Regions from separate parts of the Homo sapiens genome. Here region 1 is linked to region 2. The links come from fine-mapping of genetic effects on gene expression. A gene starts in region 2. The other region holds a variant in brackets. All regions are shown on one strand. Distances are from middle to middle.

Region 1 (8,368 bases), 47 kb before region 2:
ATGGACCAATCAGCAGGATGTGGGTGGGGCCAGATAAGGGAATAAAAGCAGGCCACCCGAGCCGGCGGTGGCAGTCTGTTGGGCTTTCCTTCCAGTTTGTGGAAGTTTGTTGTTTTGCTGTTTGCGATAAATCCTGCTGATGCTCTTTCTGTGGGTCTATACTACCTTTATGAGCTGTTATACTAACTGCGAAGGTCTGTGGCTTCACTTCTGAAGCCAGCAAGACCACGAATCCAACGGGAGGAATGAACAACTCCAGATAAGAACTGTAGTAACACTCGCCGTGAGGGTCCGCAGCTTCATTGTTGAAGTCAGCTACACCAAGAACCCACTGGAAGGAACCAATTCTGGACACAGGGGGACTTCGTGCACGCAGCACTCCATGAGACCATGAGCTTTCTCACCGGGCAGGAGGAGCCCATCCCCAGCTACACGTCTGGGCCCAGCGCTCTCGGAGCTGCTTTGGAGAAACATGCTTGGCGTTGTCTATGCCAATGGCCAGGCTCCTGGGACTCTACAGGTTTCTCCAGGTAAGTACTCAGAGCCGTACCCTCCCCTAATATTTGCTGTGGTATTGGCCACAATGGGGGTGACGCTGAGGCCCTACCACGGAGGGTCCTGGCTCCCCGCCAATGCCCTACAGCCTGACGCCATCCTCCCCCTCACCATGACCTCTCTGTAAGAGAATGGTGATCGCTGCTGCATTCACCAGGACACTGAGATTGAGGGAACTAGCAGTGACACGTTGCAGCTCACCCAGCACTGGGGCGCTGAAGCTGGGTTTTGAGTCCAGGCCATAGGGCTTGTGCCGCCAGCCTCCACACGGCCCCGCCCCGCTGGGGCCTCCTGACTCTCAGGCCCTCGGGTGTCATTCCCATAATAGTAGCTATGTCTAGAGGCAACTTTTTTTTTCTGTTTATTTTATGTATGTATGTGGGTGTATTGAGATGGAGTCTTGCTGTTTCCCAGGGTGGAGTGCAGTGGCACGATCTCAGCTCACTGCAATCTCCGCCTCCCGGGTTCAAGCGATTCTCCTGCCTCAGCCTCCCGAGTAGCTGGGTTTCCAGGCGCCCCCTACCACCTCCCGGCTAATTTTTGTATTTTTAGTAGAGACGGTGTTTCCCCACGTTGGCCAGGATGGTCTGGAACTTCTGTCCTTAGGTGATCTGCCCACCTCGGCCCCACGAAGTGCTGGGATCACAGGTGTGAGCCACTGTGCTGGGGCATTTTAATTTTTTTAGTGATGGGGTCTCTGTCGCTCAGGCTGGAGTGCAGTGGCATGATCACGGCTCACTGCAGCCTCGATTTGCTAGGCTCAAGCAGTCCTCCGGCCTGAGATATAATCCACATACCGCGTAACTCACTCATGGCTTTTGGTATGTTCGAGTTGTGTAGCCATCCCCACAGCCAATTTGAGAACATTTTCATCACCCCACAAGGAAACCCCAACCCCTTTAGCCAGCAGTTTCCATCAGCTCCACCTGCCGGCAACCACTAATGTATGTTTTGTCTGTACAGATTTGCTTTTTCTGGATACTTCCTATAAACGGAATCATACGCTGTGTGGTCCTTTGTGACTGGCTTTTCTCACTAAATATATTTTCAAGGTTCATCCACGTTGCAGCCTGTGTCAGAGCGTCGTTCCCTTCTATTGATTAATTTTCCATCATAGGCTGGGTATAGTGGCCCTGTGGGAGGCCAAGGTGGGAGGATTGCTTGATGTCAAGAGGTCAAGACCAGCCTGGGCAACATAGGGAGACTCCATTTCTACAGGAAAAAAAAAAAAAAATTAGTGGCATGCAGCTGTAGTCCTGGGTACTCAGAAGGCTGAGGCAGGAGAATCACTTGAGTCGGGGGGCGGGGGGGGTGGGTCAAGGGTGCAGTGAGCTATAATCGTACCACTATAATCCAGCTTGGGCAACAGTGCAAGACCCTGTCTTAAAAATCCGTTGTATGAATAGAGCATGTCGTGTGTATCCATTTATTAGTTGATGTATATTTGAACTGTTTCCATTTTGGGCCTACTGTGAATAGGGCTGCTATGAACATTTATGTATCCGTTTTTGTGTGTATGTTCAGTGTGTTTTCAATTCTCTTGGTTGTATGGGTAGAATTTCTGGGCCAAATGTTCATGCTATGATTAACTATCTGAGGAGCTGCTGGAGTGTTTTCCAAAGCAGCGCACCATTTTACATTCCCACCAGCATTGTATGACGAGTCCAATTTAATAGATTCATGTTCCACTGAGAAACCTGTAAATTTGGGTTTACAGGATTCCTCTGCCCTTGAACGCCTTAAATTTGCAAAGTTTGCTGGCCTGCTGGGGGAGAGGCCTGCCTTCCTACCTGTGAAGCAGGGGGCCCTGTAAATCACAGAACAGGTTGGAAGGGTTTTCCTGGGGCGGTGTGAATGTTGGGGCCACAAAGAAAGCTCACCCCTTCACCCCTTACTCCTTCAGGGTGGGTTGTCATGTATTGGGGAGTTTATTCTGAGGTGTGACACTTCAGGTATGGGCTTGATCGTACGATCAATTTAGTCCAGTCCTATCCTGATAAAAAGGAGAGTTGATTTCTATAGAACCTCTGCAAATAACCGCATAGCTATTCTAGGTGCTTTTAACCCCAAAGTATCAAGCCAGGCTGATTTTTTTCCAAGAATTCACCTTGATTACTTCCCACTTGGATTCTTACATAAAATGCTTCTGAACTAGAAGTTTCTATATGTAGACTTTCTTTTCTTTCCTTTTAATTCAAGCACATTTAAAGGATTAGAGACTCAATTTTTTTTTTCCTTTTTGAATTTTTTTGAGACGAAGTCTGACTCTTGTCGCCCAGGCTGGAGTGCGGTGGTGCGATCTCGGCTCACTGCAACCTCTGCCCCCTGGGTTCAAGCAATTCTCCTGTCTCAGCCTCCCAAGTAGCTGGGACCACAGGTGCCCGCCGCCATGACCGGCTAATTTTTGTATTTTTAGTAGAGATGGGGTTTCACTATGTTGCCCAGTCTGGTCTCAAACTCCTGACCTCAGGTGATCCACCCGCCTCAGCCTCCCAAAGTGCTGGAATTACAGGCGTGAGACACTGCGCCTGGCCTTTTTTAAAACAAAACAAAACAAAACAAAACAAAACTCTCCCTGTGTTGCCCAGGCTGGCCTGCAACTCCTGGGCTTGTGATCCACCTCAGCCTCCCAGTGTTGGGTTTACAGGCATGAGCCACTGCGTGCAGCTGCAACTGCATTTCTTGACTGCAGCTCAAGAAGCTGTTTTCCTGTACCTGTAGGGTTGCCAGATAAAACAGTACCCCCAGTGAAATTTGGTTTTCAGATAAACAATGAATAGTCCTTTTTAGTAGAATTTGGTCCCAAATATTGCACAGGACATACAAGACATACTTATGCTAAAATATTAGATGAATTTATCTGAAATTTAAACTTAATTGGGTATCCTGTTTTTTTATTTTCAAATCTGTTAGCTCTACCTGTTGCGTCAGCCTTATGGGTCTGTGTAAACCAATCAGACCAGAGCACCGTTCCGTTCAGACCCCATAACCTTTGCATAGCCTATTTCCTTACTACCCTCTGGCGGTAGGAGAATGTTTTGCACCCACACGAGGAGCGTGTTAAAGTCTCTGATCCAACAGACCCCAGAGACCGAGCAGTTTCATCCTGTGCCTCAGCCACAGGTCAGAAGCAAACACAGACACAAAACCTCGTTGACCCCGATTTCATAGAACTTTATCTTCCGGGGCACGAAGAGTAGTCTCTTCATTGGCAAATCGACAAGCAGGCAAAAACTGACAAAGATCACAGCGTGGCCAAACAACACAAGTAGGTTCCGAGTCATTGCCACTGCCAGTGAAGAACTGTCCGTCCGCGCTGTGTGAACCGTAACTAGAATCCGAACCCCAGGCCCGGCATGGTGGCTCCAGCCTGTAACCCCAGAGTTGTCCACGCTGTGGAAACCGGAACTAGAGTCCGAATCCCAGGCCCCGCACGGTGGCTCCAGCCTGTAGCCCCAGAGTTGTCGGCGCTGTGCAAACCGGAACTAGAATCGGATCCCCAGGCCTGCTGAGGCAGGAGGATCACGTGAGCCCAGGAATTTTAAGACCAGGCTGGGAAACATAGACCCCATCTCTACAAAATAATTTTTTTTAACTGGGGGTGGTGGGTGGTGCACATCTGTAGTCCCCTGAGGCAGGAAGATCTCTTGAGCCCAGTAGGTGGAGGATGTAGTGAGCTGTGTTCCTGCCACTGCACTCTAGCCTGGGTGACAGT[A/G]AAACCCTGTCTCAAAAAAAACAAACAAAAACCCAGCTTGGCAAAGGAGCAGAAACGTAAGTTTGAAGTGGGCAAAACGAGAGGAATGAACATTAAGTTCAATTATTCCTTGGGGCTGGGTGCTGCGGCTTACAACTGTAATCCCAGCACTCTGGGAGGCTGAGGCAGGCCGATCACGTGAGGTCAGGAGTTTGAGACCAGCCTGGCCTCAAGTGATCTGCCCACTTCTGCCTCCCAAGGTGCTGGGATTACAGGTGTGAGCCACCACATCTGGCCTTTTTCTTTCTTCCTTTCCTTTTCTCCTTTTTTTTTTTTTCTGTGCCTGCTTGGCTCGCTCTCTCTCCCCTCCTCCATCCCTCCCTCCCTCCCTCCCTCCTCTCCCTCCCTCCCTCCCTTCTTCCCTTCCTGCCTGCCTTCCCTCCTGTTTCTCTGTCTGACTCTGTCTCTCTGTCTCTGTCTCTGTCTGTCTCTGTCTGTCTCTTCCTCTGTGTGTCTCTGTGTCTGTCTCTCTCTCTCTCTCTCTGTGTGTGTGTCTCTCTTTCTGTGTGTGTCTCTTTAGAGTAGGGGGTCATACTGTGTTGCCCAAGCTAGTCTCGACCTCCTGGGCTCTAGCAGTCCTCCCACCTTGGCCTCCCAAAGCCCTGGGATGTACGTGAGCCACCATGCCCAGACTTATGTGGGAATTTTTTTTTTTTTTTGAGACGGAGTCTCATTCTGTCACCCAGGCTAGGGTGCAGTGGTGCGATTTCGGCTCGCTGCAACCTCGGCCTCCAGGGTTCAAGCGATTCTCCTGCCTCAGCCTACCAAGTAGCTGGGATTACAGGCACCCACCATCATGCCTGGCTAATTTTTGTATTTTTAGTAGAGATGGGGTTTCACTATGTTGTTGGCCAGGCTGGTCTTGAACTCCTGACCTCAAGTGATCTGCCCGCCTTGGCCTCTCAGTGCTGTGATTATAGGTGTGAGCTTTCAGTGACAAAATTGGGGGACACACCCAGGGCCACCAGGGACGTGTGGGTCAACCTGGCTTTCTTTTGAACCTGGTGGTCAGCAGGTGCCTGAGCTGCTCCTCACCCCTCCCCATTGCCCTGGCCTCTTCCTGCACAGGTCAGCCCCTCCTCCACACTGGCCAGCCTCAGCGACAGGACCCAGTTCCCATCCTTCTTTCAGACCCTGCTCAGTCACCTCACGACCACCCATGCAGTGGTGCAGCTGATGCTTCACTTCCGATGGTCTTGGGTGAGCGTCCTGGCGCAGGGGGACGACTTTGAGCTGCAGGGCAGGTCTCTGGTCGTCCAGGAGCTGGGCCAGGCTGGGGTCTGCATTGAATTCCAACTCTGCATCCCCACCCGGGAGTCCCTGAAGATGAAAAACATCATCTGGCTGATGGAGAACTGTACGGCCACCATCATCCTGGTTTTCCTTAACAGCTAGCACTTCAGACTCATCCTGCAGTGCCTGGCAGGCCGAGGCATCCTGGGCCAGGTCTGTGTCAGCTGGGACACTCTGCACATGGCGCTGGTCCTGACTGTGCCAGTGCCTTCTGGGTTCTGCAGGGCTCATTCAGCCTCCTGCTTTGCAACAGCCAGCCCCCCGACTTCCCTGCGCCTTGCCAGGACCCCAGAAGACATGTTCATATGGAGATTCTGGGAGGTCACCTTCAAGTGCACATAGCCCCATAGCAGCTGGGGGCCAGCAGGGAAAAGCACAGCGGCTGCAGGAGTCCAGTTCTGCTCAGGAAATGAGAGTCTGAGGGTTGAGCACTACCCTTTCCAGAAGGAAAGCAAAGTACACATCGCCTACACAGTGGTCTATGCCATCGCCCAGGCCCTGGCAGGCTGCAAGCATGGGGACCAGGGGTGTGCCGATGCCTGGGACTTCCAGCCCTGGCTGGTGAGAGGCGAACGTGTGGAGTGGGGCTGAGCATGGTGGCTCACGCCTGTAGTCCCAGTACTTTGGGAGACCAATGTGGGAGGATCATTCGAGCCCAGGAGTTCAAGATCAGCCAGGGAAACACAGTAAGACACTGAATCTACAAAAAAATTTTTAAATCAGCCAAGCATGGGCTGGGCACAGTGGCTCACGCCTGTAACCCCCACATTTTGGGAGGCAGAGGCAGGTGGATTACGAGGTCAGGAGATCTCGAGACCATCCTGGCTAACACAGTGAAACCCCATCTCTGCTAAAAATACAAAAAATTAGCCAGGCGTGATGGTGGGCGCCTGTAGTCCCAGCTACTCAGGAGGCTGAGGTAGGAGAATTCCTTCAACCTGGGAGGGCAGAGCTTGCAGTGAGCCGAGATTACACCACTGCACTCCAGCCTGGGTGACAGAGCGAGACTATCTTTAAAAAAAAAAAAGTCGTGATGGTGCACGCCTCTAGTCACAACTACTTGGAAGGCTCAGGTGTGAGGATCGCTTGAGCCCAGGAGGTTGAAGCTACAGCAAGCCATGATGGTGCCACTGCACTCCAGCCTGGGCAACAGAGTAAGACCTTGTCTCAAAAACAAACTGTGGAGTAGATGATTCAGGGAAGGGGAGACAGCAGGAAACTCACTTGGTCTCCTGGTGGGGAGGACAGGGGCAGTGCTCCTCAGTGAGGATATCTTGTATTCACAGCCCTAAGCCACATCTTAGCAGGAGCACTGGACGAAGATTTTTTTTTTTTTGAGACGGAGTTTCGCTCTGTCCAGGCTGGAGTGCAATGGTGTGATCTCAGCTAACTGCAACCTCTGCCTCCTGGGTTCAAGCAATTCTTCTGCCTCAGCCTTCTGAGTAGCTGGGATTATAGGCATGTGCCATCACGCCTGGCTAATTTTGTATTTTTAGTAGAGATGGGGTTTCACCATGTTGGTCAGGCTGGTTTTGAATTCCTGACCTCAGATGATTTGCCCACCTTGGCCTCCCAAAGTGCTAGGATTACAGGCATGAGCCACCGTGCCGGGCTGAGGAATTTTTTGTTTTGTTTTGTGTTAAGACAGTGCCTTGCTTTGTTGTTCAAGCTGGAATACAGTGATGCATTCACAGCTCACTGCAGTCTCAACCTCCTGGGCTCAAGCGATCCTTCAGCCTCCCGAGTAGCTGGGACTACAAGCATGCACCACCACGCCCAGCTAATTTTTGTATTTTCACCATGATGCCCAGGCTGGTCTCAAACTTCTGGGCTCAAGCGATCTGTCCACTTTGGGGTAAGTGTTGGGATCACAGGCATAAGCTACCATGCCTGGCCAGGATGAGGGGTCTTAAGTCCATGCTAGGTTTGTGACTGAGGGATCAGGATGTCTAGGTGTTCAGGGACTGACCTGTGTAGGTCCCGCCAGGATTTTACTCCACTTGGAGTGTGATGGGAAGGCCAAGGAGGAAGTGTTTGCTCAGACGGAATCCCTGGAGCAGGGGCCACACTGTGGCTTTTGTGCGTTCCTTCCTCCGTGGAAAAAAAAATTCTTAATTCAATTTTACCATTGCCTTGGTCTAAAGATGAATATATCCTGGGTTGGACTCATTATTATATGTTCATTATTACTTTTTTTTGAGACAGAGTCTTGCTCTGTCGCCCAGGCTGGAGCGTAGTGGCATGATCTTGGCTCACTGCAACCTCCGTCTCCCGGGTTCAAGTGACTCTTCTGCCTCAGCTTCCTGAGTGGCTGGGATTACAGGCGTGAGCCACCACGCCTGGCTAATTTTTGTATTTTTGGTAGGGACGGCATTTCACCATATTGGTCAGGCTGGTCTTGAGCTCCTGACCTCGTGATCTGCCTGCCTCGGCCTCCCAAAGTGCTGGGACCACAGGCTTGAGCCACCGTGCATGGCCCATTAATTACTTTTTAATTTTTTTCTTTGCTTTTACAAGCAGTTAACATTAGAACATTTTCATGGGACCCTGCAAATATCACAGCCCTGGGTCTCCCGTGCCTCATGGATACGTTGGCCCTGCCTGAGGCAGCCCCTGCTCACCACGGTGGCTGAGGACCTGATGCATTTTGCACAGGCCCTGGGACTGGCCCTGCCCATCTACAGTGTCATCCATCCTTCCCCAGCTGCTTCGTCCTCTCAAGAACGTGCATTTCAAGACCCCTGATGGGACAGAGATCATGTTTGA
Region 2 (8,368 bases):
TCCTGTAGCCAGATGGCTCACCTTGTTAGACATCAAAGGACTCATACTGGAGAAAAACCCTATGAATGCAATAAATGTGGAAAATCCTTCAGTCAGAGCTGTCACCTTGTTGCTCATCGGAGAATTCACACTGGTGAGAAACCCTATAAATGTAATCAGTGTGAAAGATCCTTTAACTGTAGTTCTCACCTCATTGCACACCGGAGAACTCATACTGGAGAGAAACCATACAGGTGTAATGAATGTGGGAAAGCATTTAATGAGAGTTCATCCCTTATTGTACACCTAAGAAACCATACTGGAGAAAAGCCCTACAAATGTAATCATTGTGAAAAAGCATTTTGTAAGAATTCTTCCCTTATTATTCATCAGAGAATGCATAGTGGAGAGAAACGCTTTATATGCAGTGAATGTGGAAAAGCCTTTAGTGGTCACTCAGCCCTACTTCAACACCAGAGAAATCACAGTGAAGAGAAACTGAATTGAATTTATGCGAGTTTTTCGTTTCTTGTACATTTGACAACACATTGAGGAAAACCCTATAAACATAATCAAGAGGGGACATTTTTCATTAAGAGTTCAGTAAGACTTCTCCCACATTATTTACTAGAAAATATCATCTTAGAAGAAACCCCATGAAGGAAAAGAATAGGGAAAAGCTTTCAGCAGTTATTTAGCCCTTACTCAAAATCAGATAATTAACAATGAAGGAAACTCTAAACTCCCCTTATGGTCTACCAGTAATTCATACTTGAGGACCATGACTGTGGGGAATGAGGCATCTTTTAGCAAGAGCTCTCACCAATTGTAGATTGGTGTGAATTGCTAAGGGAAAAACCTTATGCAGAGAAAAGTTTTTGACTGGAAATACACTGTTTTGCATCAAGCTGGAGTACTGGATGGAAAACTCTACAATAACATTTTGTGCATAATTGTAGAAATACAGATTTTGTTGTTATAAGGGGAGGGTCTGGGTGCCCAGGAGTAGAATATGAAGTGCTAAATCTGAATGTAAGAAAAATAATAGTATTGAATGGGGTATTTACTGTTGATTAACCTCCTTAGAGAAAATTAATGAATGAGATGACTAACGGTAGAAAAGTTATTGCCTAGGAGTGTGAGACTGATGTTGCTGGACAGAAAGTGATCCTTAGCCCAGTGTGTCAGCGTCCATTGTTACTCATCACTGCATTGTTGGGCAATTAGTTTGTAATTTGTTTTAGGCAATCACTATAAATTATAATTATGGACACTGCATCAGTATACATAACATGAAGGAATAAAAAGGATACAGAATTGTATATACATACTTACTGTAACACATCTAAAAAAATGTATATGGGTAAGGACCTGAAAGATCCATGGAAAAGTTAACCCAGTTGAGATTTTTAAAAAGTTTTACAAATACATATAACACTTATGTGCTGGGCTTTCTTTTAAATGCTTTCCAAGTGTTAACTTGTTTAGTCCCCTTTACTCTGAGATAGGTACTGTTACCCCAGTTTTACAAATGGCTAAGCTGAAGCAGAGATGTTGAAGGATCCTACCTAAGGGGCACAACTAGTAAGGGAGTAGAGCTGAGATTGGCTCCAGAGTTCTTGTTTTCAGCCACCATTTTATGCTGCCTCTCCAGTGATTTTTTTTCCCATTTTCTTCAGTGTTTCTATAGCAGAGATTTGATAATAAAAAGAAAATCCTAAACAATGAGAAATAAAGTTACCTGGTTTCTCTGTCTCGAAGGATTTATAGTAACATGAGAACTAGTATCCCTTTGGAATATGAAGTCTGTGTTGGACATTCAGAATCACTGCATTTTCTGGGACCTGAGTTCCCTAGAACTTTGCTGCCTGCAACCCCAAGGATAACAGGGCAGCAGGGCCTGGAGGACTTGCTGGAGGACTGGGCAAGTCCCTTGGTGGGTTTAGAATGCCACTTACAGAGCAGAGGGCAGGGGTGTTTGTTCCTTTCCATAACTAGACACCACTGCACTTCAGAGCACCATTACCCAAGGTTTACCTTGAATTCGGTCTTTTATTTTTTTGAAATCTTCTGCAGATGAAAGGCTTACTTGAAGGAGCAGGATTCAGAAGGGAAGAGAGCTAGCCAGTCCACCTAGAGTAATGAAGTCTCAGTGTTCACAGGGGAAAAGGGGAAAGATGGATCAGAAGACTTGGGTGGCTTCTCTCCAGTTCATAAGTATTTCTAAAACTGGGGGCCAAGGATCCTTCCTGGATAGGCTTCAAGGGTATTGAGTGGAACTTGGGCTCATAAAGCTCATCTAATTTTTAAAGGGCCCATGGCTTCCCAGTGGTTGAGAAATGATGGCCTAGTGATGTCATTGGGAGGCTGTTATTTTCACCTTCTGACTCTTCTAGCTTGGGCTCACTTAGGTGTGTAACATTTGATTGTAGTCCTTTCAAGGCCTGACACATTAGTGGTCACCTGATAAATGTGGCAGGGGCAAGTTAGTTATTGATGGATTTTTTTTTTACATGATTTGTGCAAAGGCCCTTGGAGAGAATGAAGTTAGCAGTATTATCTCATCTTGGAGAAAGCAGCATAATATATCCAGAATCATACTACCAGTAGGATGTGGATATTGTATTCTAATAGCCAGAGTGAATCCAAATTATCTGATTTAGAGATTCCAAAGGATTTCATAAGTCATATGCAATATACCACAAGCATCCTGGTAACTTATAACCTTATTACTAAGATTATTATCTTGAAAAAATTTCTAGGCCGGGCACCGAGGCTCATGCCAGCATTTTGGGAGGGACAGGAGGATTGCTTGAGCTGAGGAGTTCAAGGCCAGCCTTGCAACGTAGCAAGATCCCATCTCTGTTTAAACAGATAAGAGTTTTTTTAATGTCTTAAAGGGCCTCCTGGCAGGGCACAGTGGCTCACTCCTGTCACCCCAGCACTTTGGGAGGCCAAGGTGGGTGAATCATGAGATCAGGAGTTCGAGACTGGCCTGGCCGCCAACATGGTGAAAGCCCATCTCTACTAAAAATACAAAAATTAGCTGGGTGTGGTGGCAGATGCCTGTAATCCCAGCGGTTCCAGAGGCTGAGGCAGGAGAATCGTTTGAACCCAGGAGGTGGAGGTTGCAGTGAGCCAAGATTGTGCCACTGCACTCCAGTGTGGGTGACAGGGCAAGACTCCATCTCAAAAAAAAAAAAAAAAAAAAAAAAGGGCCTCCTGTTGGTCAGGTCACATCACGAGTCAAAAGAAAGTCCCAGACTTCTGCTTCTTCCTGGAAGTATTCCCTTCCTCTCACCTATCATGCACAGCCTGGACAGTATTGATTTCAGTGGTCCCTAACATCCAGCACTCCCAGGTCCCCTCTGTCTCCCTCATACATGACATAGTTCATTGCCTTTTTTGAGCCCGTCTTCTATTCCTCCCATCTCTGAAGCCTAGGGCCCACTTTCAGTCATCAGGAGTCCCCCTTTACCTTCCTGCTGTGGGTCTCCCCTGTGCACATTGCCTCCCTTCTAAGGGTGACTGCTTTCCTTCCACTTTCTTTTCTTTCTTTCTTTGTGCAGTGGTACGATTTTGGCTCACTGCTACCTCTGCCTTCTGGGCTCAAGTGATCTTCCTGCCTCAGCCTCCCGAGTATCTGGGACTACAGGTACACGCCACCATGCCTGGCTAGTTTTTGTTTTTGTGTTTGTTGTTTTATTTTTTTGAGACAGAGTCTTGCTCTGTCGCCCAGGCTGGAGTGCAGTGGCATGATCTCAGCTCACTGCAACCTCCACCTCCTGGGTTCAAGTGATTCTCATGCCTCAGCCTCCCAAGTAGCTTGAACTACAGGTGTGCACCACCACGCCCAGCAAATTTTTGTATTTTTAGTAGAGATGGGCTTTCACTGTGTTGGCCAGGCTGGTCTTGAACTCCTGGCCTCAAGCGATCTGCCCACCTTGACCTCCTAAAGTGTTGGGATCATAGGCGTGAGCCACCGTGCCCATTCCTTTTTTCCTGAACATTTTCCAAGTGAGGTTGTTGGAAATCACGGATGGGGAACTATGCATGCGGAGGGCTGACTGTAATTGATTTCTTTCTGCCTCCTCACTAATCTGCACACTGCAGGCAGGGACCTGGTCTCATCATGCCTGCACCTCCAAGCACTGCCCTCTTACACTGTAGTCTCCCCATTGGTCAGCATGGTTCCATGAAGGAACTCCATTATCACAGCAAGGACTGACCTCACACTGGTGGCTCCAAGTCACTGCCCAAACATTCTGAAGGGAGTAGAACTTCTTGATTCCTCAGATAAATAGAGGACAGATGCTGGACTGTAGCTAAGTATTTCCTTTCATCTACGGGATAAAATACTGATAATTTGAGAGTGATGGACAAGGTTCAGAGTGGTTTCCTCATTTTGTTTTTGTTTTTAATGGAATGCCAACTTCATTTATGCTTGCCGTATGCAGATGGACTCCATCCCACTGGAAACATAACAGGCTTACCAGGTAGCTTCAACCACTGGTTTTATGTGACTCAGGGAGAATTGAAAAGCTGTTTCAGGGGAGATAAAAAGAAGGTAATTACATTTCACCGCAAAAAGTTTTCTTTTCAAGGCAGTAAACGGTCACAACCACCCAGAAACATCACCAAAGAGCCCAAAGTGTTCTTTCATAAAACCCAGTTGCCTGGGATTCAAGGGGCTGCCTCGAGATCCACGGGTGAGTCATTGAATTCCTCATTCAGTGGAGTGAGAATCGTAGCCTGGAGTCCTCTTATCTGCCATGTGAATGTGTACTGTGTGCTTGCTGGTAGAAAGGTCCATAAAATAGAGTATAATTAGATAAACATTTGCTTGGAAATTAGATCTTATGCTCTTCACTCTCTGTTAACTGCTTTCTCTTTAGGGATTGCCACTTTCTTCTCTTTTTCATTTCACTTTAATAAGCGCACACAAAAACCTTGATCCCATCCAGATTACACAGGTATGCCTGTCTGACTTGAATTTGGTGCACATTTGGCAGTAGAGCATGCAAGTCTAGACACAGAAGGTTTGTGAGTGTACAGAATTCTTTTTTTTCTTTTTTTTTTTTTTGAGACAGAGTCTTGCTCTGTCGCCCAGGCTGGAGTGCAGTGGCGCGATCTCGGCTCACTGCAAGCTCCACCTCCTGGGTTCACACCATTCTCCTGCCTCAGCCTCCCAAGTAGCTGGGACTACAGGCACCCGCCACCACGCCAAGCTAATTTTTTGTATTTTTAGTAGAGACAGGGTTTCACTGTGTTAGCCAGGATGGTCTTGATCTCCTGACCTCATGATCCGCCCGCCTCGGCCTCTCAAAGTGCTGGGATTACAGGCATGAGCCACCATGCCCAGCCGAGAATTCTTTATAAGCATTTTCTATGGTTCCCTTCTAATTTGAGTACTAGAGGATGTTTGTTTATCTTATAACAGCAAAACCAACCCCGACAATCTTTGAAGCTCAGCAACCCTTTGTGGAGATATATGATGCTTGTAAATAATCTCCATTCCATGCAAGGGAAATGCTGTCTGTGTGATACATTTGCATGTAATTTGTGTCCGAGGAAAGGACACTATTGTTGGTTCCCTGGCCTCTCTGCCTGGCTCTCTGATCCTTTTTTTTTTTTTTTTTTTTTTTTTTTTTTTTTTTTTTTTGAGACGGAGTCTCACTCTGTCACCCAGCTGGAGTGCAGTGGCGCAATCTCGGCTCACCACAACCTCCACCGCCGGGTTCAAGCAATTCTCCTGCCTCAGCCTCCTGAGTAGCTGGGACTACAGGCGCGTGCCACCATGCCCAGCTAATTTTTGTATTTTCAGTAGAGACGGGGTTTCACCATGTTGGTCAGGCTGGTCTCGAACTCCTGACCTCGTGATCTGCCTTCCTCGCTGGGATTACAGGCATGAGCCACTGTGCCCAACCCTTGCTGACCTTCTAATGAGGTCGTAGCCCCTTCAACTCTAAGTCTCTCCAGGTCCTTAATTTGGGCAGAGATTTCCCAACTTGTATGACTGCAAAAGGAGACCAGAAACCAAAAGTATCCTGTTCCTAAAGGTCATTCTTCATGACAGGAAGCACCAGGTGCAAAAAGAACAGCAGGCTCACCAGGCTTCTGCAAATTAACCCACACATTGCTGCCAGGCATTGGGAGGAATGTATTAACACATCCCATCTTAGATATTTGGAAGCTGTGTGTTCGGCGTCCTTCTCTAATGCTAAGTTATTTCCTTGTTTTCCCAAGTTCATCTTAAACCATCTTAAAGTCTCTTCTTTTTGATCCCCTTTGATGGCCTTTTAGCTGCATCCCCTACGAACCCCATGAAATTCCTGAGGAATAAAGGTAAGCCAAGGGATCTGGGAGGGCGGGTGGACCCGCAACATTCCTGAAGCTGTCGTGATGTGTGGCTCCAGAGGGTGCTGGCTGGTCACCAAGGAGCCTGCACACGTGGTGCCTTCATGTGTGTTAGACAAGGTGCCCCCTCTGGAGGGGGATGCGCAGTGACACCGCTTGGGGCAGGTGAGAAGGTGGCTCAACTCCACGGGCTGATGTTGTAGTGAGTAGAGCACAGGCTGTGTCTGAGATCTCTTTGTGGAACACACAAAATGCATGGGCACACACAGCGGCCCTGTCAGCAGCCTTTCTAGCAACTCTCCCCACTGTGGCTTGTCCTGGAACCTCCTCAACACCTCTCGCTTCAGAGTCCTCCAAAGCAGAAGGCACCTTGTGTCCTGCTGCTGCTCCCGCCCCAGAGCATCCTTCCTTCTCCTCTGCACATTTGCTAAGTGCCTGCAACAGGGCGGCTTCTGAGTCAGCTCCCCCACCACCTACCCATCTCCACTGCTTTCACATGTAGCCAGCATTTTATTTAATCACATATGCTGAGTGAGACATGCAGACACAGAAATGACTGTCATGAAGGAAGAAGCCTGATACTCACGGGTCCCTAGAAGCAGGAGTCCACACAAGGAAGCACCAGGGTCTATCAGAAGGCAAAGGGAGCCAGGAAAGTGTGAGCAAAAGCCTTTATTCTGGGCCGGGTGCGGTGGCTCATCCCTGTAATCCCAGCACTTAGGAAGGCCGAGGTGGATGAATCACTTGAGGTCACGAGTTCGAGACCAGCTTGGCTAACATGGTGAAACCCCATCTCTACTAAAAATACAAAAATTAGCCAGGAGTGGTGGTGGGCACCTGTAATCCCAGCTATTTGGGAGGCTGAGGCGGGAGAATCGCATGAACCTGGGAGGTGGAGGTTGCAGTGAGCTGAGATTGGGTCGCTGCACTCTAGCCTGGGCAACAGAGCGAGGCTGTCTTTTTTAAAAAAAACAACTTTATTCTGGTTTTTACAGGAAGGCAGGTAGGGAAGGCGGGCTTGGGATCAGCTTGAGTGATTTGGTGGCTGTGGGGCATGGGGTATGTCCCTGGTTGTCTGGGACCTGGCCCTGGGGTGGTTGGGGGCAGGGGATGGTGGCCTGGAGCATGAGGGCTCCATAGAGATTGTTGGGGTGTAGGCTTTGGGTGTGTCGGCTTGCACATGAAAGGTGCACTTGCAGGCCAGGGTTTACTATCTTCAGGAATTGGCTGGACCTGGGAGGGCAGTCTCTTCAAGGGTCAGTTAAGGCCCCAAGATGTCAAAGTATCAGGAAATACAGAAAATAAAAAACGTGATGAATACATCCATCCACGCCAAACACATTATCAATCTTCCTAAAGCTCAGCTATGACTGTTTCACCTGCCCATTGACACCACCATCACCAAAGCACAGAGCTTGAGTCCTGGCTGGGGTATCAAAGGCCTGCACACTGGTCCTTCTTTTGACACTAGCTCGTTTTGTGTGCTGGTGCTAGAAGGTCACTGAGACCTCTGCCACCCCTGAGCTTCAGGTCCCAGTTGTAGGTAGGATAGAGACGGGACAAAATTGTTTATCTAATAAAGTTGATGGTCCGGGTGCAGTACAGGCTCATGCCTGTAATCCCAACACTTTGGGGGGCTGAGGTGGGTAGATCACCTGAGGTCAGGAGTTTGAGACCAGCCTGGACAACATGGTGAAACCCCATCTCTACTAAAAATACAAAAATTAGCTGGGCATGGTGGAGGCCAGCTACTCGGGAGGCTGAGGTAGGAGAACCCGGGAGGCTGAGGTTGAAGTGAGCAGAGATCGCACCACTGCACTCCAGCCTGGCAACAGAGCGAGACTCTGTAACAAAAAAAAAAAAATTATATGGAAAGATGTCTACCTTACTCATAGTAAGAATTGTGCATTGAAACTGCCAAGCTTAAATAATGAAGTTCGACAAATATGATTAAGTACAGAGTTTATTTGAGCACAAAGCTTGAGGATGTCCACCCACGAGACACTGACTCCAAACTAATGGGGACAGCATT

Evidence for each region.
Region 1: its variant is fine-mapped to the expression of C19orf18 in putamen (GTEx, PIP 0.99).

The regions. Positions count from the first base shown.
Region 1 is chr19:58,017,291-58,025,658 of GRCh38, reverse strand. It overlaps the pseudogene VN2R19P. Among named protein-coding and RNA genes, the nearest start is that of ZSCAN1, 13 kb to the left of the region's middle. The variant A/G (reference allele first, on the strand shown) is at 4,271.
Region 2 is chr19:57,970,419-57,978,786 of GRCh38, reverse strand. It overlaps C19orf18 (chromosome 19 open reading frame 18), which reads left to right and starts at 4,253. Exons shown (of 6, transcript NM_152474.5): 1 at 4,253-4,475; 2 at 4,584-4,688; 3 at 6,283-6,324. The coding sequence starts at 4,355. It overlaps ZNF606 (zinc finger protein 606), which reads left to right. Exons shown (of 7, transcript NM_001348022.3): 7 at 1-1,711. The coding sequence ends at 486.